Regions from separate parts of the Homo sapiens genome. Here region 2 is linked to region 1. The links come from fine-mapping of genetic effects on gene expression. Tissue or cell type: whole blood. Region 1 holds a variant in brackets; the other region holds the start of a gene. All regions are shown on one strand. Distances are between the middles of the regions.

Region 1 (2,675 bases):
CATCTGGAACCTCTGAGCGCACCAGCCCCTAGGACCCCAGCAATACCCCTCGCTGTCCCCGGAAGTCCACAAGCAGACCTTAGATACTTCCTCTCGCCTCCCTTCCCCAGCCCAGCAGGGTGGCCCCATACCACTGGAAGTCAGACCCCTGTCAGTCATAGGCTCTAACCCTCAGTGGCTCCGGATCAATGCCAGAGTCCGCTCACAACCCTGTGGTCTGGCCCAGCCCCCATCCCTGGCCTCACTCTGCAGCCTGCTTCCCGGCGCGCCGGTCCCTGGCCCCCAGCCCCAAGCCTGCTTCCTTCTTTCTGCATGCCGTTTCACACTCCTCCAGGTGCCTGACGGGCATGTGGATAGTTTGGCACCTGTCCCCCGACCCTGCCAGTGGCTGTGAGCCACGTGAGGTCAGTCTGGCTTCCTTCCATCCCCACCTCTGTCTGCCTGGTCCCTACTGGTGGTGTTTGCTTCTCAGAAGTAGGTCCCCTTCCTGAAACTGCCCTTGGCGTGCAGCAGGTATACCCTAAATATTCCTGAATTTGGGACGGGACGTTTCTGGGCTGGCTTCCTCAGTCTGTCCCACGTTGCCACCATTTTTCTCTAAGACAGAGGCCTCTGGGGCCCATGACCCCCTCTCCTTCCTGCAGACAGAGAAAGCACCGGCACCTGCTGATCTCCCACACCACAATGTCCACTTGCTGGGCGAGAACCTTTGAGGCATCCCTGCTGTTCTCGAGATACCAGCCTCGGCTGAGGGTCCCTCGCCGCCGGCCCCTGTGGCCCCCTGGGCGCCGCCCTTCTCGCCCCAGAGCCGGTTTCCTCTGGTTCCTACCTCAGGACCCTCACATGGGCTGGCCCTGCCTCCTGGAGCATCCACCCCTCTCCTTAGCCTCCAGACCCTTCTCATTCTCCAGGCCCCAGGTGAGGGTCTCCTTGGTGAGGCCCCCTCCCTTCCCCCTCCTGGTTTGGCTGTGGCCACTTCCCCTGCTTTCCATCCCCCACCTCTGTCTGCCCGGTTCCTGCTGGTGGTGTGTGCTTCTTAGAGGCCGCCTCCCCGAGGGCAGGGCACTGCACAGCCAACAACAGTTCAATGGCCTCTTGCTCGCTGGGAGACCCTGGGCCTTGGTCACCTCTCGAGCAGGGAGGGGCCGGGGAGTCTGTTCTGTGGCACAGTGCAGCCTGGGGGCTCAGGCCCGGGCGTGTCTGGGAACGGAGGCTGTGAGCGCGGAGCGGGCTCTCCTGGGCCCCAGGCCACTCCCTGGGCCTGAAGGGAGGGGCTCAGGGGAAGGATGAGGCCCCTCGTCCCCAGCTCCCTGGGCACCACTGAGAGGCCTCTGGCCACCTCCGTCCCTCAACATTGGCCACGCCCACAGCCTGCTGTGTTCTGTCTCCA[C/T]CCAGGCCTCTCCCCGGGCGCTCTTGGCTGTCCCTGCTGGCTCAAGACGGTGTCCTCTCTCTGGACACTCGAGAGGCTGCCCAGGGTGCTCCCAAACACGCACACCATGTGAGCCTCTTCCTCCGCCCTACGTGCCCCATCCTGCCCATCCCCAGGAGAGGGCTGCCATGCCCCGTGCCCCCAGCCCACGGGCTCTCTGCGGCTGGGGTGCTTGTCTTCCTGAACCCTTTCTGTGAACGCCTCACATGTTTGCTTCAAAATTAGTCTGTGTACAGGGTTTTTCATGGTATAAGTACCCTATGAAGACGTTCTCCCGCCAAATAAAGACATTTCAAAGACACATCTCCATTTCACCTGCCCCATTTCCCTCTAGGGCCCCTGCCTGCCAGGTAACCAGCTTAGGGATCTGATGTTTCTCCTTCCAGCAACTTTGATACGCAGCTCGTGCCTGGTTCTGCCTGGTCAGCGAGGTTTAGCACGAGTGAGGCGAGGCGTGATGTGACACACATGTGGCTCTCCACTGCTTGTTTCCATGCGACACACTTGTGGAGGCTGCACGTAGAATCACGGGGACAGTGCTGGCTCCTGGGACGGCTGTGCAGCCCTCCTTTCTGTGGGGATTGCTGACATCACCACCCAGTCCCTGCTGGTGGGCGTGGAGGCTGAGGGCTCCACAGGCCAAGTCTTTCTGCCTACATGTGCTGGTGTTCGGGGGGAGGGGTCCCCTCTTCTGGGGAGCTTGGTGGCAGCAGCCAGGCTGTGCTCTCCCACCTCCTCCCCTTGGAGTGCAGTCCGGCCTCACCCTCTACCTCCTGGGTGAAAACTTCTACCTCCGGCCTGAAACGTCACCATGCCTCCCCACAGACAGACGGATGGACAGATGGGCCTCCCTGCACCTGCTCTGTGGGTGTGGGGGCTCCTGCTCAGCAGCAGTTTCCAGACCCTTCTCCCTGCTTTCCCCAAGCCACCCGCCTTGAATCTGGGGTGCTCTACCAGACCCATCCCCTCATTTCTAAAGATTTGAGCCACTAGTCGTGTCCCTCTCCCTCAGAAATGCCTTGGTGACACTTGGCTGCTTTCAACTCTTCCACCCATCTGCCTCTTGGTCTCATCTTTACCTTCTGCTAAAGGTCCTGACCCCCACCCCCGCCACGCCACGGGGCACCCCATGGTGGTGCGTCCTTGGGAGCAGCTCTGTCCCTTTCCCCGTGGCCTTTGCCCCGCCTCCTATGACTTCGATTCCCACCTGTCCCCGACCCCTGGGACCACTGACCGGGCCCGATCA
Region 2 (2,675 bases), 49 kb before region 1:
ATCAAGAGCCAAGAATGGCCCTGGCCCCTCTCCTGGGTTAACGCCCTGTCCCATCCAGTTCACCCCCCTCACTTCAGATCTCGCTTCCCTGAGACCCAGAAGACCCGCCCTGCTCCCCCAGCTGCAGCTGCACACTGCCACAGCATTCCATGGGGGTGGGGGTGTCTTGGGACTCAAAGGCAGGCTGGTTGGGGTTCAGGGGACCGCACCTTCCCTCCCTCCCAGAGGTCTCTCTGCTGGCTCACAGGCTCACCTGAGATAGGGGCTTAGATCTCATGGGCTGCTGGACCCTCCAACAGGTGTCTGACAGTCCCCATCCCGATCTGGGAGGCTCCTGGTTTGAGGAGGGGGCTCCCTGCCTCATGGTAGGTGGGCCAAAAGGGAGGCAGCAGGAAATAATGGTCTCTTTTGGTCTGGCCTGGCTGGGGTGAAGCACCGTGTGTGTGCGTGCGTGTGTGTGTGTGTGTGTGTGTGCGTGCGCGCACGACCGAGGTCTGTACCAGGAAGGGCTGCAGGCGGGGGAGGGGCATGGTCCTTCACAGCCCCTTCCCCTATGACCTCGGGCAGATCTTTCACTTTTACCCAGTACAACAGCTTCCAGCCAGCCTGGACAGGCAGATCCCGGGGCTGGAGTGGTCTGGCCCAAGGCTGAGAAGGGCTGGGACCCCCGACAGTGACATGATGGGCTCAGCCCCTGTTCCATCTACTGGGCAGGGTGGGCCTCCGCAGATAGCGGCTTCAGACTCCAGCTCCAGGGGGCTGGTGGGAGTCTCTCAAGGTGTCCCACACATGGTCCCTCGGGGAAAGAGTGGAGCTGACCCCTGTCCCCCCTCCCGACTCGAGGGCCTTAGGGCCAGCAGGTGTGTGAGGGCTCCAGGCGCGCGGAGCCCTCGAAGGGACACCAGCCCAGCAGCAGCAGGCCGCGCGGGGGCAGCCGAAGACCCCATCCGGCGCAGGCCAGGGCCGAGCTGGCAGCGGCGGGTCCAAGCCTCGTCAGCTGGCGCAGGAGGCCCACGGGCGAGCGCGGGACGGAGCTGGGCGCCGGGGTCCGGACCGGGCCGGGGTCGAGTTGGGCCTGGCCGGACACCGGACCCGCCAGGAGCCGGCCCCTGCCGCGCTGGGCTGAGGCCCCCGCCTGCAGACAAAGGAGCCGGCGGGGGGCGGGAGCCGGGGGGGTGGGGGAGTGTTGCAGGGGGGATGGGGCGAGGGGGCGGGCGTCGCGGTGTCACGTTACCGCCCGCAGCGCCCTTTAACTCCCGCCCCCGCCCCGCTCACCGCCCCCTTCCCCTGCTACAGCGCGCTCGCCCCGCGGCCGCCAATCAGCCGCGCGCCCCGGCCGCGCGCCCCGCCCCGCCCCCGGTGGGTGTGCGCGCGGCCAATGGGCGGTGCGCGGGGGCCGGGCCGCGGCGGGGCGGGGCAGCGGGGCGGCCGCCAATCGCCGTGGTGTTGTTGAAACTGAAAATACTACATTATGCTAATCGCGGCCGGGCCCGCGCGCACGGGGGTGGGGCCCGCGCGTATAAAGGGGGCGCAGGCGGGCTGGGCGTTCCACAGGCCAAGTGCGCTGTGCTCGAGGGGTGCCGGCCAGGCCTGAGCGAGCGAGCTAGCCAGCAGGCATCGAGGGGGCGCGGCTGCCGTCCGGACGAGACAGGCGAACCCGACGCAGAAGAGTCCACCACCGGACAGCCAGGTAGCCGCCGCGTCCCTCGCACACGCAGAGTCGGGCGGCGCGGGGTCTCCCTTGCGCCCGGCCTCCGCCCTCTCCTCCTCTCCTTTCCCCTTCTTCTCGCTGTCCTCTCCTCTCTCGCTGCCCGCGTTTGCGCAGCCCCGGGCCATGTCCGACGCGTCCCTCCGCAGCACATCCACGATGGAGCGTCTTGTCGCCCGTGGGACCTTCCCAGTACTAGTGCGCACCAGCGCCTGCCGCAGCCTCTTCGGGCCGGTGGACCACGAGGAGCTGAGCCGCGAGCTGCAGGCCCGCCTGGCCGAGCTGAACGCCGAGGACCAGAACCGCTGGGATTACGACTTCCAGCAGGACATGCCGCTGCGGGGCCCTGGACGCCTGCAGTGGACCGAAGTGGACAGCGACTCGGTGCCCGCGTTCTACCGCGAGACGGTGCAGGTGGGGCGCTGCCGCCTGCTGCTGGCGCCGCGGCCCGTCGCGGTCGCGGTGGCTGTCAGCCCGCCCCTCGAGCCGGCCGCTGAGTCCCTCGACGGCCTCGAGGAGGCGCCGGAGCAGCTGCCTAGTGTCCCGGTCCCGGCCCCGGCGTCCACCCCGCCCCCAGTCCCGGTCCTGGCTCCAGCCCCGGCCCCGGCTCCGGCTCCGGTCGCGGCTCCGGTCGCGGCTCCGGTCGCGGTCGCGGTCCTGGCCCCGGCCCCGGCCCCGGCTCCGGCTCCGGCTCCGGCCCCGGCTCCAGTCGCGGCCCCGGCCCCAGCCCCGGCCCCGGCCCCGGCCCCGGCCCCCGCCCCGGCCCCGGCCCCGGACGCGGCGCCTCAAGAGAGCGCCGAGCAGGGCGCGAACCAGGGGCAGCGCGGCCAGGAGCCTCTCGCTGACCAGCTGCACTCGGGGATTTCGGGACGTCCCGCGGCCGGCACCGCGGCCGCCAGCGCCAACGGCGCGGCGATCAAGAAGCTGTCCGGGCCTCTGATCTCCGGTGAGCCCCGCACGGCCCCGC

The links. PIP is the estimated chance that this variant, and not a neighbour inherited with it, causes the effect.
Region 2: CDKN1C starts here. The variant in region 1 is fine-mapped to the expression of CDKN1C in whole blood (TOPMed, PIP above 0.99).

What each region holds. Positions count from the first base shown.
Region 1 is chr11:2,835,940-2,838,614 of GRCh38, reverse strand. The region is part of intron 15 of KCNQ1 (potassium voltage-gated channel subfamily Q member 1); the gene reads right to left. Among named protein-coding and RNA genes, the nearest start is that of KCNQ1-AS1, 24 kb to the left of the region's middle. RefSeq lists an enhancer at 1,912-2,675. The variant C/T (reference allele first, on the strand shown) is at 1,391.
Region 2 is chr11:2,884,649-2,887,323 of GRCh38, reverse strand. CDKN1C (cyclin dependent kinase inhibitor 1C) reads left to right here and starts at 1,549. Exons shown (of 4, transcript NM_001122630.2): 1 at 1,549-1,690; 2 at 1,858-2,654. The coding sequence starts at 1,868. RefSeq lists enhancers at 52-887, 888-1,723, 1,724-2,559.